Linked DNA regions of Homo sapiens: regions 1 and 3 are each linked to region 2. Evidence: fine-mapped expression QTL. A gene starts in region 2. Each other region holds a variant in brackets. All regions are shown on one strand. Distances are between the middles of the regions.

Region 1 (10,942 bases), 24 kb before region 2:
AAAGATACATGAGTGACCTTTTAAGCTTGTGGTAGAATTTCACTGACTAGGCCTAAATGGTGAATGTTGCTGTTCATGAATCCTGTTTTCATATGTAGAACTGTCATTTTGATATTGATAATATTGGCCATTAACATAGATTCAGTGCTTCCATACCTTGGCTCACAAATGATCTATATTTTGAATAACTTGGTTAAGTTTTGAGTAATGTTAGTTATGTTGTTGATTATCAATGTTAGGGATTAAGATGAATATATGGATATATTTTTTCTTTTGTGCATGGGAAAGGAATTTTTAAAATTTGGGAACATATGGTAACAACAAAATAATTTTTGAAGATTGAACCCACACTTTGAAACAAGAGCTAACTTTGTCTCTTTGACTGGAGGGCCTTTAAGAGAGGTATTGATATACCCCCATCTCTTTGTAATATATTAAATAAATATAATGGTAAGCCTGCTATTTGTAAATACCATATTATTTACCCTCCCGGCATAAGAGCCATCCATATGTGGATGCTTAGAATAGACTGAAAATGTTTACTACTCAGACTTGCAACTCAGTGCTTAAACAAGTGCCTCTCTTGTAGGTTACCATCCCACCATTTCATGACCCTTTGAAAAAAGCACAATATGACAAGGATAACGAAAAAAGAACTCTTCTTCAGTGTGAGACTGGTACTTAGTTCCTAATTGTTATGTGATTTCATAGCCCAAGAGCAATGGCAGATGCATTTAAGGATGTTAATTTAGATTTTTATTCTTCCTTCAGGCAAAATATATTCAATAAAGGAATTCAAAGAAGTTGAGAAGGTTCAGCTGCATTCCAGATTCCCACAAATTTCTAATTCAAGGCACTTTATAACTCCAAACGAGTGGCTGAAACTGCCTACAAGATACATAGAAAGTGAATTTTGTAGAAGGAGAAGGTAATGGTTAATATACTAGAAATTATAGAACCTTTTGGACTTTGAAAATTCTTCAGACTGATATAACATTTTTCATAGTTATGATTTTTTAAAATTATCATTTTTCTTTTTTTTTGAGACAGAGTCTCACTCTGAAAATTTCATTTTTCAATGAAAAATCCATAATTCTTATCTTTGTTTCTCTGTATGTGATGTTTCTTTTTTCTTGGGTACTTTCAAGATTTTCTGTTTCTCTTTGGTTTTCATTAGCTAGATTATGATCTGTTTATATTTGTTTTTTTCTGTCTATCTTAATGTTCTCTGAGGTTCTCATATGTGTGGTTTTATGTCTTTTATTATTTTGGGGAAATCCTAGGCCATTATCACTTCAAATATTTCTTATTTCCTGTTCTGTCTACTTTTTTTCTTCCTCCTGAGACTCCAATTATATGTATATTAGATCACTTGATGATGTCTCACAGTGCCATAGCTCTTACTCTGTTCTGATTTTCCACTCTTTTTTTCCTTATTTGTTTTTCAGTTGGATGATTTCTGACTTGTTTTTAAGTTCACTGCCCTTCCTTAGCTGTGTCCTGTGCCCATCAAAGGAACTCTTCATCTTTGATATCATGATTTTCAAATTTCTAGCATTACCATTTGAATTTTTAGATAGTTTTTATTTATTCTGAAATTCTTCATCTGTTCATGCATGTTGTCCACCTTTTCCACTAGATTCTTTACCATATTAATAATTTAAAACTCCCTATCTGGTAGTTCTAATGTTAGGGTCATTTATGAATCTAGTTCTCTTGATTGCTTTATCTCTTGACAATGGCTTGTTTTGCCTTGCCTTTTTTTTTTTTTTTTGCATGTCTTGTAATTTTTTATTGAATGCCAGATATTTGATGTAGAAGAATGGTGTACATGGAGTATTTATGTCTAGAAATGGATATGCCTCTTCTTCTGTCAAGCATTAGTGTGGAGGATTAGCCTTATCTAGTTGGAATTGAGTTGGGTTTGGGTAATGTTATTGCTATTGTTACCTTTAGTGCATCACAGGCTTGAATACCTCCAGTGGTTAGGCTGCTTTTCCTTGTGCTTAGAGTGCGGGTGGGGTGCCAGAGGGATTTTCTCAAGTGTTTCTGCTCCTTCCTCAGTTTTCAGCTATCCATGCAAGCTGGCATCATAGAAGTGGAGGGGTATTCTCTCCATGCTCTTCCCTCTCCCACGGGAGTATACCACTGTTGCATGTTGCTTATTGCAAGGCTTCTAGTGGACGCAGAGGAATATCCCATGTTTTTCTCATGGAGCTTCAGTTTTAGACAAGCCCTATGTGCTTAGGCCTCAGAAGCAGGACTTTCCTGAGGTTCCTTTTCCTTATCCTTGTGGCAGCCAAACTTGACCTTGTATCTGTGGTTGTTCTTGGATGGCAGTGTCCTGTCTGTCTTCCAACGACAGCAAGATTTCTGCTTAGTATAGGAATAGGAGTCTTGATACCTTTTTTTTTAATTTGTAAATTTAATTTTTGTAGGTACATAGTAGGTGTATATATTTATGAGGTACATGAGATGTTTTGATACAGGCATGCAATTCATAATAGTCACATAATGTAAAATGAGGTATCCATCCCCTCAATGATTTATTCTTCATGTTACAAAGAATCTAATTATACCCTTTTAGTTATTTTTAAATGTATGTTAAAGTGTTATTGACTATAGTCCCCTTGTTGTGCTATCATATACGAGGTCTTATTCATTCCTTCTATTTTTTTGTCCCCATTAACCCCATCCCTACTTACCCTTTACCCTCCCAATACACTTCCCAGCCTCTGGTAACCATCCTTCCGCTCTGCATCTCCATGAGTTCGATTGTTTTGATTTTTAGATCCCACAAATAAGTGATAACATATGATGTTTGTCTTTCTGTGCATGGTTTATTTCACTTAGCACAATAACCTCCAGTTCCATCCATATTGTTGCTAATAACAGGGTCTCATTCTTTTTTATGGCTGAATATTACTCCATTGCGTGTAAGTGCATTTTCTTTATCCATTCATCTGTTGATGGACATTGAGGTTGCTTCCAAATCTTGGCTAATGTGAACAATGCTGCAGCAAACATGGGAGTGCAGATATCTTTTCAATAGACTGATTTCCTTTCTTTTGAGTGTGTACACAACAGTGGGATTGCTGAATCACGTGGTAGGTCTATTTTTAGTTTTTTGAGGCTCCTCCAAACTGTTCTCCATAGTAGTTGTACCCATTTACATTCCCACCAACAGTGTGCAAGCATTCCCTTTTCTCTACGTCTTTGCCAGCATTTGTTATTGCCTGACTTTTGGATATAAGCCATTTTAACTGGGAAGAGATGATAACTCATTGTAGTTTTTTTTTCTTCTTCTTTTTTTGAGACAGAGTCTTGCTTTATCGCCCAGGTCAGAGTGCAGTGGCCCCCACCTCCCAGGTTCAAGCAATTCTCCTGTCTCAGCCTCCTGAGTAGCTGTGACTACAGGCACATGCCACCACACCCAGCTGATTTTTGTATTTTTAGTAGAGACGGGGTTTCACCATATTGGTCAGGCTGGTCTCAAACTCCTGATCTCAGGTGATCCACCCACTTCAGCCTCCCAAAGTGCTGGGATTACAGGTGTAAGCCACTGCGCCCGGCTTGTTGGTTGATTTGTAATAAGGCTTTTCTTCTCTCAAAAATCTAATGCCATAGTATTGGTTTCTGTGTGTATTGGGAGTGTGAGCCACTGCACCTGGCCTGCTTTCTTTCTTTTTATTTTTTGTAAATCTGTTACTGGTTTTTTGATTTGCGGTTACCATGAGGCTTGTAAATGCTATCTTGTAACCCATTATTTTTAACTGATGACAACTTAAGACTGATTGCATATACAAACGCACAAAAAGAAAACTAGTGAAAACTTTAAACTTTGTCTCCCTGCTTTTTAACTTCTTGTTGTTCCTCTTTGTGTCTTATTATACTATTTTTTGAAAAGTTGTTGTAATTATTTTTGATTGGTTCATCATTTAGTCTTTCTATTTAATAAGATAAGAGTATTTGCACACCACCATTGCAGTGTTATATTATTCTGTGCTTTTCTCTGTGCTTACTATCACCAGTGAGTTTTGTATCTTGAGATGATTTCTTCTTGCTCATTAACATCCCTTTCTTTCAGATTAAAGAACTCCCTTTAGCATTTCATATAGGATAGGTTTGGTGTTGATGAAATCCCTCAGCTTTTGTTTGTCTGGAAAGGTCTTTATTTCTCCTTCATGCTTGAAGGATATTTTTTTTTCTGGATAATACTATTCTAGGGTAAAAGTTTTTTTCTGTCAGCACTTTATTTCTTTATTTTATTTTATTATTATTTTTTTGAGACAGAGTCTCACTGTCACCCAGGCTGGAGTGCAGTGGCATAATCTCGGCTCACTGCAACCTCTGCCTCCCAGGTTCCAGTGATTCTTGTGCCTCAGCCTCCCAAGTAGCTGGGATTACAGCTGTGCACCACCATACCCAGCTAATTTTTGTATTTTTAATAGCGATGGGGTTTCTCCACATTGGCCAGGCTGGTCTTGAACTCCTGACCTCAAGTGATCCACCTGCTTCAGCCTCCCAAAATCCTCGGATTACAGGCATGAGCCACCATGTCTGGCCATGTCAGCACTTTAAATATGTCATGCCACTCTCTCCTGGCCTGTAAGGTTTCCACTGAAAAGTCTGCTGCCAGATGTGGTGGAGCTCCATTGTATGTTATTTGTTTCTTTCCTCTTGATGCTTTTAGGATCCTTTCTTTATTCTTGATCTTTAGGTGTTTGATTATTAAATGCCTAGAGGTAGTCTTCTTTGGGTTAAATCTGCTTGATGTTCTATTACTTTCTTCTACTTGAATGTTGATATCTTTCTCTAGACTTGGGAAGTTCTCTGTTATTATCCCTTTGAATAAACTTTCTACTTCTATATCTATCTCCCCTGTAAGGCCAATAACTCTTAGATTTGCACTTTTGAGGCTATTTCCTGATCTTACAGATGTGCTTCATTGTTTTTTATTCTTTTTTTCTTTTGTCTCCTCTGAATGTCTATTTTCAAATAGCCTGTCTTCAAGCTCACTAATACATTTTTCTGTTTGATAAATTCTGCTATTAAAAGACTCTGATGTATTCTTCAGCATGTCAGTTGCATTTTTCAACTATAGAATTTCTGCTTGTTTTGTTTTTTGTTTTTTGTTTTTTTTTTTGAGACAGAGTCTTGCTCTGTCACCCAGGGTCCATGGAGTGCAGTGGTGTGATCTTGGCTCACTGCAACCTCTGCCTCTTGGGTTAAGGTGATTCTCATGCCTCAGCCTCCTGAGTAGCTGGGACTACAGGCACCCACCACCACGTCCGGCTAATTTTTTGTATTTTTATTAGAGATGGGGTTTCACCATGTTGGCCAGGCTGGTCTCAAACTCCTGACGTCAGGTGATCCACCCGCCTTGGCCTCCCAAAGTTCTGGGAATACAGGCATGAGCCACTGCACCCGGCCTCATTATGAGATTTTTTGGTGATTTTTTTTTTTTTTTTAGCTCATTAGCTATCATTAATGTTAGTGTATTTTATGTGTTTCTGTGTGGCCCAAGACAATTTTTTTTTTTGAGTCGGAGTCTTGCTCTGTCCCCCAGGCTGCAGTGCAGTGGTGCAATCTCGGCTCACTGTAACCTCCGCCTCCTGGGTTCAGGCGATTCTCCTGCCTCAGTTCCCTGACTTAGCTGGTATTGCAGGCATGCACCATCACACCTGGCTAATTTTTGTATTTTTATTTTTATTTATTTATTTATTTTGAGACAGAGTCTCGCTCTGTCAGCCAGGCTGGAGTGCAGTGGCATGATCTCAGCTCACTGCAACCTCCCTCTCCCGGACTCAAGCAATTCTCCTGCCTCAGCCTCCCGAGTAGCTGGGATTACAGATGTGTGCCACCATGCCTGGCTAATTTTTCTATTTTTAGTAGAGACAGGGTTTCACCATGTTGGCCAGGCTGGTCTCAATCTCCTGACCTCAGGTAATCTGCCTGCCTCAGCCTCCCAAAGTGCTGGGATTACAGGCATGAGCCACCACGCCCAGACAATTCTTTGTAATTATTTCAATTTCTTTGTTAAATTTATCTGATAGAATTCTGAATTCCTTCTCTGTGTTATCATGAATTTCTTTGAGTTTCTTCAGAATAGCTATTTTGAATTCTCTGTTTGAAAGGTCATATATCTCTGTTTCTCCAGGATTGGTCCCTAGTGCCTTGTTCAGTTCATTTGGTATGTCTATATTTTCCTGGATGGTGTTGATGCTTATAGATATTCATCAGTGTCTGAGCATTGAAGAGTTAGGTAATGTAGTCTTTACATTCTGGGTTTGTCCTTCTTGGGAAGGCTTTCCAGGTGTTTGAAGGGATTTGGGCCCCAAGCCCAATAATACTGTGGTTTTTGCAGACTCATAGAGGTATTGCCTTTGTGGACTTTGATAAGATCCAGAAGAGTTATCTGGTTACTAGGCAGA[G/A]ACTCCTGATATTTACCCCCACCTTCTCCCAAACAAACAGTCTCTCTCTCTGTGCTGAGCCACCTGGAGCTGGGGGTGTCATGATGCAAGCACCCCTGTGGCCACCATTACTGGTGCCGCATTGGGTCAGACCTGAAGACGTCTAGTATAGCACCGAGTCTTGCACAAGGCCCTTCCCTTCAGGGTGTGAGTTCCCCAGGTCCCAGGCATGTCCAGAGATGCTGTCTGGGAGCCAGGGCTTGAAGTAAAAAAAACCTTAGCAGTTTACCTGATGGTCTTTTCTACTGCAGCTCAGCTGGCATTCACACCACAGTACAAAATCCTTCCCACTCTTCCCTCCCCTTTACACAGGCAGAGAATCCTCTCCCTGTGGCCACCACCACCACTGGTCTATGGGGATTCTGCCAGGTCACCACCGATGTTTACTTAAAGCCCAAGAGCTCTTCCCTTCAGCTTGTGGTGAATGCTGCCAGGCCTGGGACTCACCCTTCAGGGCAATGGACTCCCATTTGGTTGAGGGCAGGTCCAGAAATGCGGTCCAAGAGCCCAGGCCCAGACTCAGGGACCCAAAAAGCCTGCTTGTTGCTCTATCCTACTATGACTGAGCTGGGACCTAAGGTGCAAAACAAAGTTCCCTTTCCTCTTTCCTCTGTTTTTCTCAAACAGAAGGCGTCTTTCACCATAGCCACCACAGCTAGGAATGTTCTGGGTCACTGCTGAAGCCAGCACATCTCAGAATCCAGAGCCCCCAGTATACTCCCTGGGTATCGCTGCTGCTGGTTTTCAGGGCCCAAGGGCTCCTTAGTCAGCAGGTGATGAATCCTGCCAGGGTTGGGTCCTTCCCTTCAAGGCAGCAGATTCCCTTTTGGCCCAGAATGTGTCTAGAAATGTCGTCCCAAAGCTAGGGCCTGGAATGGGGACCGCAGGACCCTGCCTGCTATTCTATCCTGCTGTGGCTGAGCTGGTATCCGAGATGCAGGACAAAGTCCTCTTTATTCTTCACTCTCCTCCCTTTAAGCAGAAGGAAGGTGTCACCTTTGGAGTTGCTGCAAGCTGCACTGCCTGGGGTTGGGAGAGGGATGGTGCAAGCACTCCCTTAGCCATGCCAGCTGGTGTCTCCCTAGGTCACGTGCCACCCTAGTTTTCTGGCTCTGAGCTCAGCCCAACATGAGGAATTGCCTAGGAATTACAGTCCTTGTTCCTAGACTGCCTTTCAAATTTACCTAGGAGCCCAGGGTACTTCAGCCCACAATGGTGAGGCTTGTGGAGAAACTCAAGTTCCAATCACTGGGATGGGCACTTTCCCTCTGGCTAAGGCTGGTCCAAATGTTGGCTTCCTGAGCGGGTGCTGGCTGAGCCCAGCATGGCTTTATTCTCTGTTGTGACAGGGCAGAACCGAATTCAGCATAAGTCCCCTACTCACTGGGCTCACCCTCCCCAAATGTACAAACTCTCTCTCTGTACCACACGGCTATGACTGGGGAATAGGAGAGAGGTGGCATCAGTGATTCAAGACTGTCCCTCCTGCTCTCCTCATGCCTCTTTTAGTGATATGAAGTTAAAACGAGGTACTGTGATTGCTCACCTGATTTTTGGTTTTGGTGATGGTGCTTTTCTGTGTGCAGATAGATGTTCAAATTTGTTGTTCCAGTGCGGGGAATAAAGGGTGTAAGCTTCTATTCTGCCATCTTGCTCTGCCTCCAGCATCTTTTCATATGTTTCTTTGCCATATACTATTTTCACATGTTTTTTTGCCATCTGTCTGTCTTCTTTGGTGAGGTGTCTGTTGTTCAGATCATTTGATCATTTTTAAAATGGGTTGTTTGTTTTCTTATTGTTGAGTGTTAAGAATCCTTCGTATATTTTGAATGTAAGTCCCTTATCAGGTATATATTTTGCAAATAATTTCTCTCAGCCTATGGCTTATCTTTTCATTCTCTTAACAGTGTCTTTTGCAGAGCACACATTTTAAATTTTAATAAAGTCCAGCTAATCATCAATGTTTTTCTTTTTTTATCTGAGGATGAGAGCATGAGAGGAAAAAGAGAAGAAGCCACCCTTTCCTCTCATGTTCTACCAAAGGCGAAGCAGGTTTTGTGTCCTGCCTCTCGTGGGAGGGACTTGTCTTTGGAATTCAGTTTACTTCTTTGCCTTGAAATCTGATGGGCTCAATAAAAGTTATGTTTTTGTAGATTATCTGGCCTTTTTTTGCCCTTGGGGTGAGAGCACCATTATTTCTAGAGCATCATTATTTCTATTTTAGGATGCTTTCTACATCCCAAATGGAAGCAGAACTAAAATCATTTCATTTGTTATTTTTAAAAAGTGGCCACAAATGGCATTGTGAATGTTACATAAGACAGAAATAAACCTTAAAACAGAATTTCGAAACAATGGCTGTTACTTTTTTTCTTTGTCTACTTTGAGCATCATAATCCTAGCTCTAGTAATTAAATAGGTTCCATCCAAACCAGGAGTCTATTTATAATAGGTTTAACTCTGATGGTATATTAAGATGATGATATTTAGAATATTGATTTTATAGTGAGCAATTAATGGGCATACAGTGATAATAGGTTTAACTCTGATCATGTAGTAAGATGATATTTAGAATATTGATTTTGTAGTGAGCAAATCACATTAATGGGCATACAGTGAGTTCCAGTCACACTGTTTGTTTCCACCCTTACTTACTTATTAATGACCACCATTAATGACTGGTGGTCATTAATGTGATAAAGAAAATGTCCTTTTTAGATGATTGTCAGATTATCTTCTATGACCTCATACTTCTCTAGCCTTATGGGGGCTGGCGTGTTTGCGGGTGACTGGCTTCTTCTATGAGCCCTTTTACTGAATCTTAGTCTTTACACACTAAGCAAGTGTGTGCCAGAAGTCATTGAAGACCATGCATATATATATATATATATATATATATATTTTTTTTTTTTTTTTTTTTTTTTTTGAGATGGATTTTCGCGCCTGTTGCTCAGGTTGGATTGCAGTGGCCTGATCTTGGCTCACTGCAACCTCTGCCTCCCCAGTTCAAGCAATTCTCCTGCCTCAGCCTCCCGAGCAGCTGGGATTACAGGCATCCGCCACCACGCCCGGCTAATTTTTGTATTTTTGTTAGAGACAGGGTTTCACCGTGTTGGCCAGGCTGGTCTCGAACTCCTGACCTCAGGTGATCCGCTGCCTTGGCCTCCCAAAGTGCTGGGATTACAGGCGTGAGCCACTGCACCCGGCCACCATGCTCATATTTTTATTTCTTATAGAGGAATTTCCTATATATCCTATAGAGGAACAGCTTCTCTTCAATATATTTTTCAAATTTTGAGGATAATTGTGATGCCACTTTTCAGTCTCCAGCCTGAACACTTGGGGTCCACATCCCATAGCCTTATGTAGAAGGTGCTGATGGGGCCAGGAGTCTGAGATTGGGAAGAAGCTCAAGTGCTTAACGACTAAGACAGTTCTGGAATGCTGGAATGTCTTCAGAAGACTGTAGCAAGATGTGTGTGCCTTCTGTGTTCCGGTCACAAATATTCAATTGTCTATTTTCCACACATAAGTCAAATTCAACCTATCCAAAAGTGAGCGAGTCGTGCTTGTCATCTTTTGCATCTAACTTGCTTTTTTTGTGTTCCTGGTTATGGGAAATATCAGGGTTCTTCTTTATTGCTCATTATCCCTTTACTTAATCCAGCACTGGGCTCTGTCATATCCATTCCTAAATCTCCTTCTAATTTGCCCCTTCTGGCCAGGCGTGGTGGCTCACACCTGTAATCCCAGCATTTTGGGAGGCTGAAGCAGGTAGATCACCGGAGGTCAGGAGTTTGAGACCAACCTGGCCAACATGGTGAAATCCCGTCTCTACTAAAAATACAAAAAATCAGCCAGGCATGGTGGCACAAACCAGTGATCCCAGCTACTGTGGAGGCTGAGGCAGGAGAATCGCTTGAACCCTGGAGGCAGAGGTTGCAGTGAGCCGAGATCGGGCCATTGCACTCCAGCCTGGGCAACAAGAGCAAAACTCCATCTCAAAAATAATAAAAATAATAATAATTTGCCCCTTCCTAAACATTCCCATAAACCAAATTCCCATTCTCATGTCCAATCTATAATAACATTTATTATTTATTGAGCTCTGATGTACCAGACACTGTTATACATTTCTTTCCGCCCCCCCCCCCCCAGCTTTTTGTTTCATTTATCTTTTGTATTTTTTGTTTGTTTGTTTGTTTCAATTTCATTTAGTTCTGCTCTGATCTCTTTATTTCTCTTCTGCCGGGTTTGGGTTTGGATGGTTCTTGTTTCTCAGGTTCTGTAAGGTGTGGACTTAGATTGTCTGTTTGTGCTCTTTCAGTCTTTGTGATGTAGGCTTTCCTTTTAGCACTTCTGCTGTACCCCAGAGGTTATGATAGGTTGTGTCACTATTATCCTTCAGTTCAAAGACTTTTTAAATTTCTATCTTGATTTCATTGTTGACCCAATGATTACTCAGGAGC
Region 2 (10,942 bases):
CAAAAGACTTGGGGGAGTCTGACTTCTTCAGTTCTGTCTGTTCCCCAAATATATATAATTCCAAGATCCCCCTCTTTCCTAGTCAATGCCCTAGATTTCATATAAAAGACTGGCAGCAATGTTAATCCATCTGGAATTGCAATTCAGCAACCTACAGGATCAATTTATGAACTTGAGGGCCACAGATGGAATAAGATTTATTAAAAATAGTGGCCCTATATTTTAATGCCTTGCACATTCTGGCATCTGAGCTTTATATTATCTTGCTTTAAATTATCCATTTTTCTCTCATTCCATATTCCTCATCCTCTTTAAATTATTCTACCCTGACAGTTATCTAGTCTCCCAACATCTCACCCCTAATCAATATATGGTTCTAAGTGAAACTAGATTTTCTTTCTTTCTTTCTTTTTTTTTTTTTTTGAAACAGGGTCTCGTTCTGTTGCCCAGGCTGGAGTGCAGTGGCATGATCATGGCTCACTGCAGGCTGGACCTCCCAGGTTCAAGCAATTCTCCGCCTTTCAGCCTCCCGAGTAGCTACGACTACAGGTGTACGCCATCATGCCTGGCTAATTTTTTGTATTTTTTGTAGAGATGAGGTCTCACCATGTTGCCCAGGCTGATCTTGAACTCCTGGGCTCAAGCGATCCACCCGCCTCAGCCTCCCAAAGTGCTGGGATTACAAGCATGAGCCACTGCACCTGGCTGAAAACTAGATTTTTAAAACTTTATACTATGCACAATTTCAGAGAATTACAGAAAAAATAATTATAATTGTATAATGAATCCTTATGTTTCTGACATCCAGCTTCAATACTGATTACCTCATGTCCAGTCTTGTTTTGTGTATATGCATACCTACTTCTCAACCCTAACTGGATGACTTTGAAGCAAATCCCAGATGTCGTATCACAAATATAGTTGCTCATTCCACATGGTGAAGAGAAGATGCCTTTCCTTTCCCTGCACTTTGACACGAATACCAATTCCAAATATCTCACATTTCCTCTGAAGCCTTGTACTATTTCTGTATTATTTGAGATCATTTGTATTGCAAGTAACAAGCTAACCAGAGCTAACATAAGCACAAATGGTCCCTGGTGGTCTAGTGGTTGGGATTAAAAAAAAAAATTTCATTGAAAGAGTGCCAAAGCATCTTACAGAACCCTGAGAAAAAACTGAATTCCACAGGAATGGCAGGAACCTTGACAGCACTGGCCCCTGAGCAGCAGGCATCTCAGACCCTTCTAGGCTGTTGTCATGAACGTGACTCACAACACCTTTCCAAGTCTCTGTTTTGGTTAGACGTCTATAATCCTAGAAGAAAGACAGGAGAATCTGATCCTAGACTTGGGTCAGGTGTACACTCCTTGACCAATTAGCCACAGAGAAGAACAGGGAGGTGCTGCCATCGAGTCCACCTCTGGCCAGGTGAAGTGGCTCACGCCTGTAATCCCAGCACTTTGGGAGGCCGAGGAGGGTGGATCACCTGAGGTTAGGAGTTTGAGACCAGCCTGACCAAAATGGCAAAAGCCCATCTCTACTAAAAATACAAAAATTAGCTGGGCATGGTAGGGGGGCACCTGCAAGCCTAGCTACTCAGAAAAGCTGAGGCGGGAGAATCGCTTGAACCCAGGACGGGGAGGCTGCAGTAAGCCAAGATTGCGCCACTGCACTCCAGCCTGGGCAATAGAGCAAGAGACGCCATCTCAAAAAAAAAAAAAAAAAGTCTACCTCTGTGAGTGGAGTCAGGGATTTGCCAGAGATGGGACCACGCAGGCATCTCTAATCCACCATGTGGAGCAAGGAGGCCAGGAATCACTGAAGAAAGCTGAGCCCAAAAAGACAGGCAGGAATCTTACAGGTCATGCTAAAGCGTTTGGAATTTATGGGGAGACCCTGAAGGATTTTATAATACTCTAGTTCTTGGCATTTTTTCCCTTTTATATTACTTCATCAGTCAAAACAGACTTCTAGAAATCACATCAGCATTAAAGGGATATTGTTACTTCACCTTGACTTTTTATAGAAGGAGAAAAGTCTCGGTAAATCAGTTCTGTTCCATGAATCAGTCATTACTGCCTTCTCCATAGCCTTTCCTTCGTTCAAGTAAATTTAGAAATTTCTTAAGTTTTCTTTATAACAGGTAGCCTAAATCTATATCATACTTTTAAAATAAAAATCTAGGTGCAAATTTGTTCTTATGGTTAAGGTTAACATGTACACTTCACAAACATTGAGACTTTTGTTTTGTTTTCTGGGACAAGGTCTTGTTCTGTCTCCCAGCTGGAGTGGATACAAGCATGGCTTGCTTCAGCCTCAACCTCCCGGACTCAAGTGATCCTCCCACCTCAGCTTCCTGAGTAGCTGGGACTACAGGTGCCTGCCACCATGCCCAGCTAATTTTTAAACGTTTTGTAGAGACGCGGTCCCATTGTGTTGCCCAGGCTGGTCTTGAACACCTGGCCTCAAGCGATCCTCCTACCTCGGCCTCCCAAAGTGCTGGGATTACATGCATGAGCCACCATGACTGGCCTAGACTTTTTGATTTAAAGAGACTTTTTGGATAGAAATGCTTTTCTCTATTACAGTTATAAATGACTAAAAATACTAGCTATGCCAAAATGGCAACCAGAGGCCGACTGCAAAGCTTCAAAAGGCTTGATGCTCTCCTGGTAGACAAGTCTTCAGTCTCTTAAATGTTTTTTTCATATGTTGACATTGAAATTTCATTTTGTGTAGATGTTGGGATTATGTCTCATTCATTTATTTATTCATCATTCACTTAGTAAGTATTTAAGTGCCTGTTTTTCCCAGGTGCTCTGCCAGGTTCTGGGGATATAAGGATGAGCCAACATAGGCTCTCTGCCCTAAAGTTAGTGGGAGAAACAGTAACAAAAGATTTTAATACTATGAGATTAACTGACTTAGTTGTGGTATGTAGAAAGAGACACAGAGCCTGCAGCAAGAGCCTAGGTGAAGACTCAGTGAAGCACTACCTATTGAAAGGAGAATCTTTCAAATCCTTAACAGTTATTTTCACCATGTAAAAAAGGCGACATTGCCAGGGAACATCAAGTAAAGAGACAAATGCTCAGGTAAGCTTTTAAATCATATGAGATTGAAATAAGTTGATTCAGTAAATCAGGGAAACTTTTATTTTCAAATGAAGTAAGGAAGAAGCTAGGTAGAAATTAAAAATCCTATTTTGTATCACCTTTTGCTTATACTTAATGTAGTTTAAGCCATCAGTATATTATACTTTTCTGTGTATGTCGTCTACTCAACAGGAATTTTCTGTTCGCCTGCTATTTGGGTCAGTCATAGATGGTCCCATGTTATGAGAAAGATGTAAAGATGAGATAGATTCAGCTCCTTTTCTCGAGAAGATTATACCATATAAGGAAGTAATTTGCTGAATGGTCTCTCAGTTAGCCTGACTAGAATCTCTAAATCATGGTCTACACAGCAGTAATGAGGAACTTTGGCCCCTCAAGTGTCAATGAAGGCCAACTGGGGCACCTGGATTCCTATCTCCATCTGGCAGTAATGAGGTGGTAACCTCATTAACCCTGTTAGATTGGTGTTGGAGAAAGCCAGCTAAAACAGAAAGTTTAAATAAGATCCAGAGTCTCATAATATAAACTGAAAATGTTCAGACTTCAATAGAGACCAGCACTGAGATGACAAAGATGTTAGAATAAGCTCACAGACTTTTAAAGTTGCTATGAGAAAACTGCTTCAATGAGCAAATATGGATACACTTGAAGCAAATGAAAAAATAAAAATCCTGAGCAAACAGGAGATACAAAGAAGAACCAGATGAAAATTGTAGAACTGAAAATTACAATAGCCAAAATAAAAAGCTCAGCAGTTAAGCTCAACAGTAGAATAGAGAAGATGGAGGAAAGAATCAGTGAGCTGGAAGATAGAACAATAAAAATTACCCAATCTTAAAAAATGAGAAAATAGACTGGGGGTGGAGGGAAGAAGAGAGGCTTAAGTGGCTGTGGGGGCTATAATAATATTCATGTCATCAGAATCCCAGAAGGACGAGAGAAACAGGCAGGACTAAAAAACATACTTGAAGAAACATTGGCTGAAAACAGAGTAATCCTTGTAGTGGTGTCCTGATACACCTGATACAAGATAATATCCTGTATCTTGACTGTAGCTATGTCAAATCTTGGTTGTGATAATGTACCATACCTTAAACTATTAACAATAATTCTAGATATCATTAAATTTGTAGTCAGAGTTTTCGCATTTTCCTGATTGGCCCAAATGTTTTGAAGTCGGTTTCTTCACATCAGAATCCAAACCAGGTCCACCTGTGGCACCTTCACCCTTCAGTGGGAGTAAGGAGCCGGACGCGTCACTTAAAACCATTCCTCTTACGTTGTCACCCTCAATCTTACAGGTAAATGGCAAATTCTCTTTCGTATTAGTGTACATGCCTCGATAAAAGTCCAGAAGGGCGGCGGGGGCCTCGGCGGTTGAAGGCCCGCGTGCCCTGGCTCCTGCGAGGGGAGGGCGCCCCCGAGACAGACGTGGAGGGAGGGCGAGGGCCAGGCGCTGGGCTTCATCACTGCGTTTCCGTTTTCTGTGAAATCAAATGGCGCCTTTCCCTTTCCCGGGAAGTCGGTGTCACCGCCCGTTTGCTGTGAAATCAAATGGCGCCCTTCCTTTTCCCGGGACTTCGGCGTCACCGTCCAGCTGGCGTCGGGGCAGCACCCCGGGATCTGGCGTGGCGCATGCGCCCCGACGCTCGGGCCCGCGGGCTCCTTTCTCCGTCGCCGCTCCAGGACGCGGCCTCGGGGGAGCCCTACCGGGACGGAGCCGCGGGGCCTGCGACTTCCCCCGGAGCTGGCCTGAGGTGGGGCCCGGGGAGGCCTACGGGCCTGGGGGTCGCGGAGCCCAGGGAGGGCTGTGGCAGGGCCAGGGGGGCGCGCCCCGGAGGAAAGGCCCGCTTTGGCCCGAGGACGACACGGGAGTGGGTAGCCGGGCCTGTTGAAGCGCCTAGGGCGCCAAGGATCCCAGTTTGTTGGGTGACTCGGCTCAGCTTTTAGAAAGGGGCCGAGCGGGATTTGAACACTCCCTGAGCCCAAAGGCCTGGCTCTCAACGGTAACCGTCTTCCTCAGCCTCAGTTTACCTTTTCATCCCTCAGGGATTCTCCTGTCCATGGCTGCCACCAAAACTGCGAGTTATGATGAACATTTCAGGCCAGAAAAGTTAAGAGAATGGCCGGAGCCCGAGTCCGTTTCTTTAATGGAGGTGAGATAACGTGGCGTTTTGAGACGTCATTTTGGCGGGGGGACCCCTCGAGTTTGGGAACTGTTTATCTTAATTTCGCTTCTGTTCTCAGGATTGTGACAGTGCCTGCTTTAAAGCAGGCGTTGAAGGGGAATGTTCGGGCTCAGATTTGGCCGAGAGTGTGGCCAAGAGTGTTTCCAGTCGCCAGCCTGGGGGCTGGCGCACCGACGGGGGCGGGCAGCCGGGCGGGTGAAGGCAGCCACCCCAGCTCCCCGGCAGAAGCCAGGTCTGGGCTTGCCAGTCAATTCTGCATACTTCAGCGTCTGGTAATGATTTTCTCAAAAAGTTTCATTATTTTGTGTCATCCTATGATTTGCCTCGCTGTGAAAAACTCTTGGAAATTTCCTTTCTTTTTCCCCTTTTGCCCTAGTGGCGGTCGGAGCAGTGAGATGCTTAATTTTTCTATGTGTGTGCACAGAAAGCTGTGGATTTCGAAAAGTGCTGCTGCAAATCATGACCTTTTCCTTATATTTCCTGGCAAAATCACAAAGAAGAGCCATCAAAGACAAAAACTGTTTAATTTCTTTAAACAAAGATTATTTGAGAATCTGACTCAAGAATGTACATAACATTTGTTAACAATCTTACTAGGATGTTCTTTAAGAAGGTGACTTCCCAAGATGCTTGTCAATATGTTCTGCTTCTCCAAATAAATAAATAGATTCTAAATTTTTATTGTAGTGTCAGGATACATGTTTAATTGTTTTACATACTTTTTCAGTTGCCATCTTCATTTTAATTAAAAAAAATATTTTAGAGACAGGTTCTTGCTCTGTAGCCCAGGCTGGGGTGCAGTGGCCCAATCATAGCTCTCTGTAACCTCAGACTCCTGGGCTCAAGTAATTCTCCTGCCTGGGCCTTCAGAGCACTAGGATTACAGGCGTGAGCCACCCTGCCTGGCCTGTCTTCTTAAAATAAGTCTGAGAAGGCTTTAAAGCAAGATCCTGTTCCTATTACAAAGAGAGCTTTATTTTAGGAAGACCTGGGCAGCTGTTTGAATATCATTTTAGATCTCATGTGAAGCTATTAAATATGTGGGTAAAAAGAACAACTTTCCTTTTTTGAGATTTCTCTTATTCACAGATTTGGTATTTGAGTTTGGGGTTTAGTTTGTTGTGATGCATTCAGTGTGGCAGAATAGAAAGAAGAATCAGAAATTGAATAACAGTTCTAAGAACCTGTATCATTTTTCATCAGCAATAATTTTTAATGTAACAATTTATCTCTTCCAGATACTGGATTTTCATTGCCTTTTCATTTGTTCACACTTAGTCCTATAAGAATAAAAGCTAGAGATTAGTGCATAGTGATCCAACTGAAAAAGCCCTAAAGTGGGGATTAAAATGCATCAGCTTTACCCAAACTCATAATGGAAATAGCAAGTCCCTAGATGTGGATGATGTTGTTTGGAGGCCATGAGCTCTCACTAATTAGCTCTGAGATTCTGGACCAGTTGAACTAAAGGGAACTTTCTGTGGTTTTTGACTTATGAAGAGATCTAGCAAAAGGCGGGAAACTTCAAGGGCCCTTTAAGACACACCTACTAGCTGGGTGGGGTGGCTCACGCCTATAATCTCAGCACTTTGGGAGGCCAAGGTGGGTGGATCACTTGAGGTCAGGAGTTCGAGAGCAGCCTGGCCAACATGGTGAAACTCTGTCTCTACTAAAAACACAGAAATTAGCCAGCTGTGGTGTCATGTGCCTGTAATCCCAGCTACTTGGGAGGCTGAGGCAGGAGAATCACTTGAACCTGGAGGGCGGAGGTTACAGTGAGCCAGGATTATACCACTGCCCTGCAGCCTGGGTGACAGCCAGACTTTGTCTCAAAAAGCAAGCAAACAAAAAACACCTACTGAATGCCTGAAAAGAGGATTCCTTTAGTAAGCTTTTTAGTGCTTTAAAACGTAATTTAATAATATGCTATCAGGGATTTTTTTTAAATAGTCTGGGTGGGGGGGTGCTGAAAAATGAGTAGGGATTTATTGGATGAAATAAGATTGACTTGGAATTAATCACTCGAGCCTGGCTGACAAGTTCACAGAGAATGGGTTTAGAAATTTTCCATATTTTTATGTTACCAAATAAGCCTCAAGATTTACACTAAAACTATTGGTAAAGTACACTGAGTTTTGTCATTGTAGTTTGTTTCTTCAGGATTCACATCTTAATATTCAATTCTGTAATTTTAGGTATTAGCTAGAGAAGACATTGATGAAGCAGTATGTGCAATATTATTTAAAGAAAATTCCATTGTGAAGGTAAGAGTTGGCTCCACGCTGCATTCTACATATGTTCTAGGGGAGCAAGAGTGTGCAGAACAACATGGCCAAGAGTTTATGTCACCGTGATCCAAGAGACTCATTTTGCAGGAGTAATGAGGATCCTCTAATTTACTTGTTTGTACTACATGCATCTGAGGCCATGCCCCCTTCTTGCAGGATCACTAAAAGGTCCCTGATCCCACTTGGATCTGTCCTGAAGGGATCTGAGAAGTTGTTCCAATTGCTCCTTCTCTTCGTCCTGGTACCGAATAGAAATTCTTTCCTACTCACACTTGCCTCTTTCTCATATGTTCCCACATTGCAGTAAAACCACTAGAAACAAAATAAGCTTTTAAGGGTTATGACCAATCAGTAACTGATAGTCACTACGAAATTAGCTTAAGGGGCATTTAATTTCAATGAGAGAGACGGAGTTATAATAATACTTTGGGAGGCTGAAGCAAGAGTATTGCTTGAAACCAGGAGTTTGAGAGTTTGAGACCAGCCTGGGCAACATAGTGAGGCCCTGTCACTACAAAAAAATTAAAAAATTAGCCAGACATGGTGGCACACGCCTGTAGTCCCAGCTACTCAGGAGGCTGAGGCAGGAGGATTGCTTGAGCTCAGGAGGTTGGGGCTGTAGTGAACTGTGATCATGCCACTATACTCCAGCCTGGGTGACAGAGTGAGACCCTGTCTTTTAAACAAAAAAGAATAAAACTTTGACATTTGAATTGTGATTTACAATGTGTAAAGAAAGTGCACATAAATTCCCATTTAAGCATCCAAAGAGGTAGATGGGATTACCTCTCTTTCACAGGCCAGAGAGAGGTGTCAAAGTCTAGTGCGCTTTCTACTCTACCAGTTTTGTCCCAGACTTTCCTGATGGTGAAGGCTAGACACAGAGTGGGTGACCAGGGAATGCTTGGAAATCCTGAAAAAGAAACAAGAGTTTCATGAGTTAGGAATAGCTTAATCTGATTCATGAGTTAGATGTGGTTAAATCTGAAGGCACAGTTATGGTTTAGAAGTTTATATGAGTTCTTCTGCTCTGTGTTCCCAGCTTCTCTTACTGCACTTTATTCTGTGCTTCAGTTATCTTATACTGGGACTTTGCAACCCGAATGTGGCTGAGAGCTTAGTAGAGAGAACAAATTTTTTTTTCCCCCTTACTCGAATGATAGTAAATGAAACATTTCTTTATAATTTATTTTCCTTTTTTGTATCACTTCACTAGAGATTGGATATGTATTTTCAGCATGTGGATACTTTTAAGGAAAGAAGAAAAGAGATGTTACATAAAAAATGGGTTGAAAATGTTGCAGAGCCTCTTCAGCAGAGAATTATGGAAAAAGTAATTTCATATAAAGAGCTTAAAATGAAACGAGAATGTTGAATATTATTTACAGCACAGACATAAAATGGTACTGATGTTTTATTTTTCAAATAGAGTATAATTTGAAGAGTTGGTCTAACAATTTCACTGGTTATACAAATAGTTTCCAGCTTATTTTTATATTTAAGATGAGTTCATTGAATTGTAACACACGTATTGCATTCTTAAGCCTGAGGTTGGAGGGGATAGGAGTGTTGATTTGGAACTAGATTTATCAGGAATGATTTTTATGTAGACGTTAATGGAGTTACTGTGGCTTAAACCATAAGGGCATTTACTTCACAAGAAATTAAGAGGTAGGTGGTCTCGTGGTGGGTTCTGACAGCATAACAATGTCAGGTTTTTTCCTATTCTGTTCTGCTATCCTTAGTATTTTCAGTTTATCCCCATCATTCTCACATTTGCCTGATGGTTGCTTATAGCTCCAGACATTAGGTCTTCATTCAGGGCAGGAGGAAGGGGTAAGGAATGGTGCCAGGGGCCTCTTCTCTTACCCTACTCCTTTGCAGGAAGCAAAAAGAGTCCCCAGAGGCCCCTAGCCAACTTTCCCTTAGGTCTCATTGGCCAGGACTGGGTCATGAAGCAAGTCCTAGCCATAAGCAGGGCCTGGAAAGCCACTGTGGCTTTCTCATCTCTCTAGTAGGAAGTGGGCAGAGGAGAATGGTATTGCATGGCTGACTTAGCCAACCAGTAGGTATTAGGACTAACAGTTTCTATACTCTGTTCTACAGTTTGGCTTTACAAAAATTTGGTTTCTTAATTTAGAGATTTTTTTTTATTTTGAGGTCAGCTCTCAGAATTTGGGTCTCTCTATTTGCAGTATCAAATACAAATCTGTTAGCTTTAGGTGTGCACTACTGGATCTTTCTTACCCCCACATATCTAGTAGATATCTAGAGTAGTGGCTGGGTGCAGTGGGTCACCCCTGTAATCCCAGCACTTTGGGAGGCTGAGGTGGATGGATTGCTTGAGTCCAGGAGTTCAAGACCAGCCTGGGCAACATGGCAAAAACCCGTCTGTACAAAAAAAAAAAAAGCCCAGGTGTGGTTCTGTGCACTTGTAGTCCCAGCTACTTGGGAGGTTGAGGTGGGAGGATCACTTGAGCCTGGGAGGCGGAGGTTGCAGTGAGCCATGATCGTGTCACTGCAGTCCATCCTGAGTGACAGTGAGACCCTAGAGTAGGTTAGCTGAAATATTAGAACATTTAAGTATATTTACTGAGCACAATTTCTGAATATTTACCTTAAATACTTTTTCCTACACACTCTTAAGGGGCAGAGCTCAAGATTGAATCCAGATCTCCAAAGTGCAAAGTCTTATATTTGTGTCCAGAAATGTGATTTCATGGGTATAGGGAGGAAGATCTTAGAAATGGCATGTGTTGAAGTCCAAGTAATTTTAAATGTCAGTAAAGTCGTTGTGAATCAACCATATGAGCTGGATTCCAAGAAAACATACATCTCTCAGGCAAGAGAGGCTGTGCTTAGAGTGGGAAGCATCAGAGTCTTGGTCTATCCTGTCCTTAACCTGTCATTCCTGATGTCACACTGTTGAAGGGACCCTCATCAGTTGCAAAACCTTTAGAAAAGAGTTGAGTCTTGACACCACTTTATAGGAAGAAAACTGGAAAGAGGTGGGGTATTTGGCCCAAGGAAATGACACGAGGGGGAATGAACCTTTTAAGTATTTTAAAGGCCGACATTAGCCGATGAATTAGATGTGTAGAACTAGTGTCTGTACCTGCAAGTTACAAGGCAGATTTAAACTCAACCTAAGGACGGACTTTCTTGAGGTTAAAATTACCAAAAAAAGTACCTGCCTCATGGAGCAGAAAGTTCTGAAAGGCCCATGGATGACTTTAGACTAAAGCTAGATGATTACTTCTCCCAGAAGGTGGTGGAGTCTCATTGCAGTCCAAACTACTTCAGCAGTTTCTTCCAACCCTTTGAAGCTATGCTTTTATATAAAAAT
Region 3 (10,942 bases), 110 kb before region 2:
TGGTGGTCCAGGGACTGCCGGGAGCAGTCGTGGAACTGCATCATTTACAGAAGGTCTGATCTTTGAGTCAGAGTCACAGAAGAATTGAGAATAGCTGTTGGGCCTTGGGCTGCTGGACTGAGATGACATGTGGACATCAGGATGACAAGGCTTCTGAAGCAGAGGCTGGGGGAACCAGAACTGCTGGACCAGCACCTGGGGGGGGGTTCTGGTTTCAAACAGCCCTCTTAGTACAGAGTCTGGAGGCCACCTCTGACCAGCTAGGTCACCTTACACTGTTCCCTACAGTAGGGGATAATGTAACCTTTGGGTTTTCCCTTTTGGGGGAAACTTAGGAAACCTTAGGAACCTTATGCGAGGACTCAACCTGAGGCTGGAATAGCTGGGAAAACAGAACTTTAGGTGGAGGAAGTGGCATAAAAAAGTTGAAAAGTCTGGCTGGGCATGATAGCTCACACCTGTAATCCCAGCACTTTGGGAGGCTGAGGTGGGCAGATCACCTGAGGTCAGGAGTTCGAGACCAGCCTGGCCAACATAGCAAAACCCCATCTCTACTAAAAATATAAAAAAATTAGCAGGCATAGTGGCAGGTACCTGTAGTCCCAGCTACTCAGGAAGCTGAGGCAGGAGAATCCCTTGAACCCGGGAGGCGGAGGTTGCAGTGAACCGAGATCACACCACTGCACTCCAGCCTGGGCAACAGAGGGAGACTCCGACTCAAAAAAAAAAAAAAAAAAAAAAAAGTTGAAAAGTGCAGAGGAATTTGAGAAAGGTATGACCTGAAAAGGACACAGAGGGAAGGGAAGGAAGGGGAGAACAGAGAGGGTTATAAGCAGGCCAGAGCCGGATTGTGAAGTGCCTGTATGCAAGGTAGGCATTTGGATTCTGCTCTGGGGAGCTATTGAAGTATTTTGAGCAGGGGAGTAATAGAATCAGATTTGTGTTTAAAGAAAAAAAAAAATCAGTCTGGATGCCAAGTGGACAATGAAATGGAGGCGAGTAAAAGAGGATCAAAAAGACCAGTTAGGAGGTTGTTCCTGTGTACAGGTGAGATAAGCTGGTGACTTGGTCGTGGTAATAGAAACAAAGAAAAGGCCAGGCACAGTGGCTCATGCTTGTAATCCCAGCACTTTGGGAGGCCAAGGTGGGTGGATCACCTGCAGTTCAGGAGTTCAAGACCAGCCTAGCCAATATGGCAAAACCCTGTTTCTACTAAAAATACAAAAATCAGCTGAGTGTGGTGGTGGGCGCCTGTAATGCCAGCTACCTGGGAGGCTGAGGCAGAAGAATCGATTGAACCCAGGAGATGGAGGTTGCAGTGAGCCGAGATTGTGCCACTGCACTCCAGCCTGGGTGACAAATTGAGATTCTGTCTCAAATAAATAAATAAATAAATAAAAATAGAAATGAAGAAAATAGGTGGATTCCAAAGATATGGAGGACTTAGTGATAGGCAGTATGTGGGGGTGAGGCAGAAGGAAGTGTCCAGATTTCCTGCTTGGGCAACAGGATGGATGGGGAGGATCGGAAGAGGAGCAGGTGTGTGCAGAAAAGGCATTCCATTTTAGACATGTGGAATCTGAATTGGGAGTTTACTCATGACCACAGCTCTATTGCACCCGATTCTTGCTTTGACAGGAATGCTCCAAAATGGGAAGAAGTTTGATTCATCCAGAGACAGAAACAAACCTTTCAAGTTCAGAATTGGCAAACAGGAAGTCATCAAAGGTTTTGAAGAGGGTGCAGCCCAGGTAGGATGAGGATTCGCATTAAAGGGGATCTGGGGAGTTGGGGATCTGGGATCAGCACTCTGCCCTCCACCTCCACCTTCACCCACTCACAGACCACTACTGCTTTGACTCTACAGCCAGGGCATGGCAACGCCATCTGGTGTCCCCTCCTGGCTTTGCGTCCCCACCCCTCTCCTTGCCAGCATACCTCTTTTGTGTCCCTGGGGGCTCTCATCCCAAGCACATCCCCCTAGGCTTGCTCAGAACTAGCTGAGAGAGCCAGGCACGGTGGCTCACACCTGTAATCCCAGCACTTTGGGAGGCCGAATGGGGTGGATCAGTTGAGGCCAGGAGTTCAAGACTAGCCTCACCAACATGGTGTAACCCCGTCCCTGCTGAAAATACAGGCGTGGTGGTGCATGCCTGTAATCCCAGCTACTTGGGAGGCTGCGACAGGAGAATTACTTGAACCGGGGAGGTGAAGGTTGCAGTGAGCAGAGATTGTGCCACTGTACTCCAGCCCAGGCGATGGAGTGAGACTGTCTCAAAAAAACAAAACAAAAAAATAAACTAGCTGAGGTCTACCAGTTGCCTGGGACTGAGGTAGTGGAAGAGTTGGGGTGGAGTAGGCCAAGAAAATTTTTCGTTTTTTCGCTTTTTTGAAAAGAATTTCAGAATTACAAAAATATTAAAGAAATAGTACAGAGTTCTTCTATATTCTATCCAGCTTCCCCTTCTTGCATAACCATAGTACAATTATCAAAACCAGGACATTCACACTGATACAAATTACTTACTTATTCAAATTTTTGATTATTCAAAATTCAAAAGTAGATTTAAATTTCACCAATTGTCCCACTAATGCTGAGTGGGTTCTCAACAACTGCTGTGATGAGCCCTGGTTCAAGCTGTTCTTTCTTGGTCTGTCTGTGAAGTCCTATGATGCTCCCTTACGATAGGTCTTGTTTTTGGTGTTTTTTTTTAGAAAGAGTATCACTCTGTCACCAAGGCTGGACTGCAGTGGCGCAATCTTGGCTCACTGCAAGCTCCGCGTCCTGGGTTCACGCCATTCTTCTGCCTCAGCCTCCCTAGTAGCTGGGACTACAGGCGCCCGCCACCACGGCCGGCTAATTTTTTTGTATTTTTAGTAGAGACGGGGTTTCACCGTTGTTAGCCAAGATGGTCTCGGTCTCCTGACCTCGTGATCTGCCCGCCTCAGCCTCCCAAAGTGGTGCGAGCCACCGTGCCCGGCCTGTTTTTTGTTTTTTATTTATTTATTTATTTTGAGACGTAGTCTCACTCTGTTGCCCAGGCTAGAGTGCAGTGGCACAATCTCAGCTCACTGCAACCTCCTCCTCCCAGGTTCAAGCAATTTTCCTGCCCCAGCCTCCCGAGTAGCTGAGATTACAGGTGTGCACCATCACCATCACGCCTGGCTAATTTTTGTATTTTTAGTACAGACGGGGTCTCACCATGTTTGCCAGGCTGCTCTCGAACTCCTGACCTCAGGTGATCCACCTGCCTCGGCCTCCCAAAGTGCTGAGATTACAGGTGTGAGCCACCACGCCCGGACTTTTTGTATTTTTTAGTAGAGACAGGGTTTTGCCATATTAGCCAGGCTGGTCTTGAACTTCTGGACTCAAGTGATCTGCCCACCTTGGCTTCCCAAAAGTGCTGGGATTACAGGTGTGAGCCACCACGGTTGGCCACAATAGGTCCCCCTTGCCACCTTGCTGGTGACTCTAGTCTCTAAACCACTTTAAATAACTGCCCCTGTCACCTACTTGAGTATTTACGTGTGCTATTCATACACCCTCTTTTCCTAAAGAGGCCTATTCTTTGGAAGAGGGTGAACTATGAACAAATGGAAGTGTTTCAGTCATACACAAATTGAATAACCAGTAATGTTTGTCAGATGCATGAATTTGAGACCACTCTGTGAGGGTTACTGCCCCACAGTCACATCTCTGCTGAGGCAGAATCTGCGTTTGTTAAAGCTGTTAGCACGATTTCAATGTATCCCATGTAAAATTCATCTGAGATCTTCAGAGTTAACATTGAGGATGGTTTGGGAAAATGCCATAGTCATCTAACTTTTTTCTTTTAAATCAAGCTGGGTCCTCTTTCTCCTCTCCCCATCTGCCCCCATCCCTGCTAGATGAGCTTGGGGCAGAGGGCGAAGCTGACCTGCACCCCTGATGTGGCATATGGAGCCACGGGCCACCCCGGTGTCATCCCTCCCAATGCCACCCTCATCTTTGACGTGGAGCTGCTCAACTTAGAGTGAAGGCAGGAAGGAACTCAAGGTGGCTGGAGATGGCTGCTGCTCACCCTCCTAGCCTGCTCTGCCACTGGGACGGCTCCTGCTTTTGGGGCTCTTGATCAGTGTGCTAACCTCACTGCCTCATGGCATCATCCATTCTCTCTGCCCAAGTTGCTCTGTATGTGTTCGTCAGTGTTCATGCGAATTCTTGCTTGAGGAAACTTCGGTTGCAGATTGAAGCATTTCAGGTTGTGCATTTTGTGTGATGCATGTAGTAGCCTTTCCTGATGACAGAACACAGATCTCTTGTTCGCACAATCTACACTGCCTTACCTTCACTTAAACCACACACACAAGGTGCTCAGACATGAAATGTACATGGCGTACCGTACACAGAGGGACTTGAGCCAGTTACCTTTGCTGTCACTTTCTCTCTTATAAATTCTGTTAGCTGCTCACTTAAACAATGTCCTCTTTGAGAAAATGTAAAATAAAGGCTCTGTGCTTGACAAACTCCTGTCCATCCTTATTTTAGGTAGGAAGTGCTCTAAGGACCACACAAGCCAGGTGCCCTTGGGAAAGAGTGGAAAGAAAGGAGGGTTCCAAGTGGCTAGGTGAGTGATAAATATAATAGCTACAATGTGAGCATTTTACATGCTGGGCCTTGTTCTACATACTTTTTTATTTTATTTATTTATTTATTTATTTGAGATGGAGTCTCGCTCTGTCACTCAGGCTGGAATGCAGTGGCACAATCTTGGCTCACTGCAACCTCCGCCTCCTGGGTTCAAACGATTGTCATGCTCACCAGCACGCCTGGCTAATTTTTGTATTTTTAGTAGAGACAGGGTTTTGTCATATTGGCCAGGCTGGTCTCAAAACTCCTGACCTCAACTGATCTACCTGCCTTGGCCTCTCAAAGTGATGGGATTACAGGTGTGAGCCACTGTGCCTGGCTATATACTTTTAAATTATTACCATTGATCCTCTAAGCAACCCTGCACAGTAGATATTACCTGCCGCTCATCTCAGGCTCAGAATCCTCCTCTGCATAACTAAAGAAATATAGGCTCCAAATCTTGTAGCCTAGCAATCAGATGTGGGACTTGAGCACCTTATGTGCTCTTGCAATCTTTGTTTGGACTACAGCCAGAGGGATGAGCTCCACTCACCCAGATGGATACAGAACACTTTTTGTGTCTAAACAAATGAAGGTGTGTTAAGGGCTTGAAGTCGTACACTAACTCACATTGGGAAGTTCCTTGTGAAAAGAGTGTGTGATTCTGAGCTTGTTTTCACATACACTGCTTAGTTTCACCTAGATTTGTTCTGACTTACATTGAGGAATTACTTTTGAGAAGAATGTATGATTCTGAACTTGTTTCCACATATAGTGCTTATTTCATCAACATTTATTGTAACTAACCAGAAACACCAGTTAGGTTTTAAAATCAGCACACTTATTGGTGTAGGTTATATATAGGCCATAGGAGACTGAGGCAATATACTCAAACATTTTTCTTTTTTTTCTTTCTTTTTTTGAGACGGAGTCTCACTCT[G/A]TTGCCCAGGCTGAAGTGCAGTGGCATGATCTCGGCTCACTGCAAGCTCTGCCTCCCGGGTTCACACCATTCTTCTGCCTCAGCCTCCCGAGTAGCTGGGACTACAGGTGCCCACCACCACACCTGGCTAATTTTTTGTATTTTTAGTAGAGACGGAGTTTCACCATGTTAGCCAGGATGGTCTCAATCTCCTGACCTTATGATCCGCCTGCCTCGGCCTCCCAAAATGCTAGCATTACAGGTGTGAGCCATCACGCCCAGCCTCAAACATTTTTCTTTCAGTTGGTATAGGATGAGAAAAACTCCTGGCCATAGTTGGGGTTATTCTTTTTTTTTTTTAATCATTTATTTATTATTTTTAAAAAATAGAGATGGGGGAATCTCACTATGTTGCCCAGGCTGGTCTCAAACTCCTGGCCTCAAGCTATCTTCTCTCAGCCTCCCAAAGTGTTGGGATTATGGGTTTAAATCACTGCACTCAGCCAATACGGTTTTCTATCAGTGACGACTTCGAATTGTTTCAAGATTGAGGACGGAGGGGCTGATAACAGGTACTGTTAGTGTTCCTCATAGACCCACTGATACATGTCACATGATGTCATATATATGCTATGAGGCCATGTCATCTTGGCTACATGATCTACCTTTTTTGTCTCCAAGAAATCCTGGCTGTATTCCTTTGCTGAGGGTGGAGGAGCTAATGAAGAAGCAGTGCTTTAGGATGGAGAAAACGAGAGAAAGGAACTGCCTTGCATTTTAGTCACCAAAGTCCCTGTGCTCACCTCTATTGTGAGACTAGACCAGCCAGAGGGTATTTCCTTCAGAATGTCTTGGTTCCTGGCTTTCTTTGATGACTCAAATGCCTACAATAATTTCTCAGAAGTCAGCCTGCATAAAAGACATACGCATATTTTCTGCTGTGACACCAATAAGATAACAAAAGATGGCATCAAGGACTATTTCAGGTGCCCACTATGGGGCATATAAAAGATATTGGTCTAGAGTATTTATAACTGAGGTGGGTCAAAGGAGACACCCACTAAAAGAACTCCCCCAAAGTGCAAACACATACTGGCTAGCACCTGGAGAGGACAGGTGAGGCTCTGCAGGTAAACTGGGAAATGAACCATTTTACTGGAGCTCTTAAAAGATGATGCAGAAAATCATGATGCAGTATGCTAATGAGTCTGGACATTGGCCTATGAGAGCCACTAAAGCTGTTAAACAGAAGAGCAATAATAAGATCAAGGTCACATCAGTTGTTTTCAGACTTTCAGTCAATGAATTCTCTATTCCTACGAATTTTTTTCTTAGAAACTCAAAAATTTAACCCAGATGAAAGTAAAGCAGCTCTGGCACATGTGTGTGCACATATAAACACAGTCATCTGTTGCACTCTTAAAAGCATTTGAAAAATTGAGCTTTGGATGCCTTGCACAGAGGACCGATCATAATTATATCCTCAGCATCTTCGTACAGTACTGTGTGCAGAGTGGGAGTCAGTGTTTGTCCACTGAGTGCAAGTTCTTGTAACTTAATTGCGACAGGATATGGAATTTCCAAACAATTAGAGGGAAGTTTTAAGTCTTAACTTTAGGTCATGAAATTCAGCTAACAGATATATCAATCCAAATGATGGACTGGTCATGACTGCTAATAGAAGGAATTTCTCCTTGTTATTAAAACAACTACACCAGAGGCAAGCTAGCCTGCCACTTAGACAAATCACACTCTAAGTTTTAAAGTCTAATTTCAGTTTTTCTCTTACAAGAAAGTCTTTTAGAAAATTCTTTTTACATTACCTAAAGGCACACCGTGCATTACAAAAACTAATAATGCATTCATAAAAGCATTCAAAAGAAAATTACAGCTGTAGCTCCTTTCTTATCTTCCCACCCTTAGAAATGACTCTACTCTCTTACACTGCTTTCAAAAAACACTCAGATATAATTAAAAGCAGAATTGATGCTCTTTGTACATTGAAGTGATTCAGTGTATGTACCTTCAAATTGATTTTAGGTTCCAATCACACACAAAACAATTAGTCCATGTTTTTCCATTTGGTCCATGCCTAAGCAATAAAAAGCAAATTACGGCTATATTCTCCCAAGCTGCCATGATGATGAATGGGGTAATAACCATACTGTTTCCATGTCATGGGAACTCATGATAATAAGAATGAGCATTAAGTATTTATGGCAAAGATATATTATGAGCTAAGGTCCAATATACCTACAGATACTTAATAACTAAAGGAAAAGTCTACATAAATACAATCTTAGACATGTAACAACCAACGCCACTACCCAAGCAGCTTGCTCTCAAATTTCTACCAATGTGACAATTATTATGTACCCATAATAATTAAAAAACAATTTAAAGAGGCAAATCTAAGTTTCTAACAATGTACTATCATCTAAATGACCATTTCTATAATAGACCTCTGTTCTAAAGACAAGGGTACCCATATTGACACAGGTGTTTTGTTAACTATAAAGCAAGCATTATTCAAATGTAAAGGCTTGGTTAATAACTGGTTGTTATCACACCAGCTTTGTATGTTAGCATTTTATTCATTCAACCAACATCATGAACTTTGGTTTCCTCACCTGCAAAATGCAAATACCTATCTTCACTGAGTTGTTATGAAGATTTCATTATTAATGGACATGCAATAAACAGCAAGTTCCTTTGATGGCTAAGCACTGCACCGGGCCCTGGAGGCATTAAGAATGTAAAGAGATCCTGTTCTCAAGAAACTCAGAATCCCTAGGAGCACCTACAATTCTTGATAAGCTTCAACTGTTTTTTCCTGGTATCAAACAGGAAGGGAAAGTTCAAGAGAAAAGACTGAGGTGTTTCACAAAAAGCTACAAGTTTATTAACATAATGTATTCCAATATGTATCAAAGTTTCAAGCAGGTCATTTTGAACCTCAAATAAGAAATCACAATATTTAGTATTAATTAAAAAGGAAAAAAAGGTGGTAGTTGTCATTCGTGGGATTTAGTCCAAATGAAAATGTAGAAAACATTTATTTTGGTGGATCTGTGTTGATGCCATATTTCTCCTTGAGAAGCTTCAACTGTTCCTCCTTCTTCTTTGTGTCCATCTTCTGAAATGCCTGGAAATGTGGTAAGCACCAAAATTAAATTACCAATCTACAGCCAAATGAATTTCATCAATAGCATTAGCCAAAAAAGAAAGTCATAGTAGACATATATCATCACAGTACAGTTCTACACTAATTCTCTTGAGACGGAGTCTCTCTGTTGCCCAGGCTGGAGTGCAGTGGCGTGATCTTGGCTCACTGCAGGCTCCACCCCCTGGGGTTCACGCCATTCTCCTGCCTCAGCCTCCCGAGTAGCTGGGACTACAGGCGCCCGCCACCACGCCCGGCTAATTTTTTGTATTTTTAGTACAGACGGGGTTTCACCGTGTTAGCCAGGATGGTCTCGATCTCCTGACCTCGTGATCCGCCCACCTCGGCCTCCCAAAATGCTGGGATTACAGGCATGAGCCACCGCGCCCGGCCAGTTCTACACTAATTCTCAAATGAGATCACTACACAATGAGAACTTTGCTATACTTACCCTGTTGGCATTATAGTACAAAACCACAAGGTATCTGTTACAAACATTGAATCCCGATAGGTGATCACATGCATTCTTGGCATCAAAGATGTCCTCATAGACCACATAAGCTGTTCCTCTAGTTTCAGGTGTGTTCCCCCTGGAGAGGTAAGTTAAACTTAATTAAGATATACATTTACCTGAGCATTGATAGTTGACTTACAGAACTGTCTTTTAAACTGGTAACTGTCTTTTAAAAACAGTAAATTGAAATACGTTTTTAGTTAAGTATTTTGAAATCAACCTGAAACCATCAGAGGAAATAAACATGGATAGATATACCGGATAAGCCTGTAATTTCTTGAATTAGGTAATTTTGTTCTTCGTTTTTATCTTAACTAAAATATCCATAGGTCAAGCTGACTGTCACATCAGGAATACTAAGAACACAGCTACTACACAGAACAGCCTCGTGAGTTGTGGGGACTACAGGTGCTCTTGCCACCCTGACTGGCTCTACGTTGTCTTTGTTTTGTTTTGTTTTTGTTTTTGTTTTTGTTTTTTTGAGATAGACTCTCACTCTGTTGCCTAGGCTGGAGTGCAGTGGCACAATCTCAGCTCATTGCAACCTCTGCCTCTCAAGTTCAAGTGATTCTTGTGTCTCAGCCTCCCAAGTAGCTGGGACTGGAGGCATGTGCCACCATGCCCAGCTAATTTTTGTATTTTTAGTAGAGACAGGGTTTCATCATGTTCCCCAGGCTGGTCTTAAACTCCTGACTTCAAGTGATCCGCCTGCCTCAGCCTCCCAAGGTGTTGGAATTACAGGCATGAGCCACCACACCCGGTCTACATTCATTTTTAATACAACTCAAGTGCTAATGCACGATACAGCTGTGTGGCTAGGGAGAAGGGCTAGGCTTCTGCAAAGATGGGAGTGGAAGTGTGCTTGTGGATAGGGTTATCAGTGAGCCAGGGCAGAATGCTGGAAGGTGGCTGGAAGTGGAAGCTAACCTTACTTATGGATACGAGGTTGCTGTTAGTGTAGTTATTCCTGGCCACTTCCTTCCTTCACCTCACCAACTTCCTCTGGGAGAGGTAGAGAAGTTTGAGGAGCAACGCAACGCTAAATTGCAGGCAGCAGGTGGCCATGTGACTGTTAGTGGAGACAATGGGTAGAGGTCCCACTCAGTTCAGGCTCTGGGTGACAAGATGGCCCCCTTGCCTCCATCTGTGTTCCAACCACCCAGTGCAACTGTGGAATGAGGTTTAAGACTGTGGGCTGACTCTCCATCTGCCACAGTCCTTACATAGGGTTGAATAAAAGCAGTGGAGCCATGGGAAGAGGAGGTACCTGCCTAGACTTGATCTAGGATAGGACTATAGTCTGGGCCCTGTTCAAGCTTGTGCTTCCTGTAAAATTGAAAAGGAATAGGGTACTGGGGGTGATTGGAGGGTGCCACTGTCAATGAATGCGCTCACTTTGTCAGGTTGTGTGGGCCTGACGAGGGGTTTTAGAATGTTCTTTAGGCTCTGGCAAGTCTTAACAACTTTCAGACTTTTGACTTCTAAAAACTTAATAAGATTTTCAGTTCCTTAAGAGCAAAGGTGATCTTATGCGTACTTCATTTATTCCTTTAGTGCCACGCATAAGGCAGACGCTAATACGCCTTTGAAAAGTGGAGATCTACTTTCTTCTATCAGTTCTCTCACACACACTTTGTTCAGGAAGCTCAAAACAAAACTAAACAAAGCAACTCTCTTTCTTCCTCTTATATCTTCTTAGGAACTAGAATAGGGATAGACACTAACCCCACTTTA

Direction of the effects. Alleles are on the strand shown, and positions count from the first base shown. SD is a standard deviation of normalised expression in the study named.
In carriers of allele A in region 1, the expression in vagina of the gene that starts at base 4,755 in region 2 tends to be lower than with G alone (moderate effect, 0.42 SD a copy in GTEx).
As copies of A replace G in region 3, the expression in tibial nerve of the gene that starts at base 4,755 in region 2 goes up (moderate effect, 0.57 SD a copy in GTEx).

The links.
Region 1: its variant is fine-mapped to the expression of FAM228A in vagina (GTEx, PIP 0.95).
Region 3: its variant is fine-mapped to the expression of FAM228A in tibial nerve (GTEx, PIP above 0.99).

The regions. Positions count from the first base shown.
Region 1 is chr2:24,146,159-24,157,100 of GRCh38, forward strand. It overlaps FAM228B (family with sequence similarity 228 member B), which reads left to right. Exons shown (of 11, transcript NM_001145710.2): 6 at 590-677; 7 at 772-928. Among named protein-coding and RNA genes, the nearest start is that of FAM228A, 23 kb to the right of the region's middle. The variant G/A (reference allele first, on the strand shown) is at 6,435.
Region 2 is chr2:24,170,299-24,181,240 of GRCh38, forward strand. It overlaps FAM228A (family with sequence similarity 228 member A), which reads left to right and starts at 4,755. Exons shown (of 6, transcript NM_001040710.3): 1 at 4,755-4,876; 2 at 5,169-5,275; 3 at 7,504-7,572. The coding sequence starts at 5,183. It overlaps LOC105374328 (a long non-coding RNA gene), which reads right to left and starts at 4,498. Exons shown (of 4, transcript XR_939833.4): 1 at 4,210-4,498.
Region 3 is chr2:24,059,176-24,070,117 of GRCh38, forward strand. FKBP1B (FKBP prolyl isomerase 1B) reads left to right here. Exons shown (of 4, transcript NM_004116.5): 3 at 1,639-1,751; 4 at 3,889-4,506. The coding sequence ends at 4,017. SF3B6 (splicing factor 3b subunit 6) reads right to left here. Exons shown (of 4, transcript NM_016047.4): 3 at 9,146-9,284; 4 at 8,411-8,676. The coding sequence ends at 8,587. Among named protein-coding and RNA genes, the nearest start is that of SF3B6, 12 kb to the right of the region's middle. RefSeq lists an enhancer at 1,763-1,902. The variant G/A (reference allele first, on the strand shown) is at 5,553.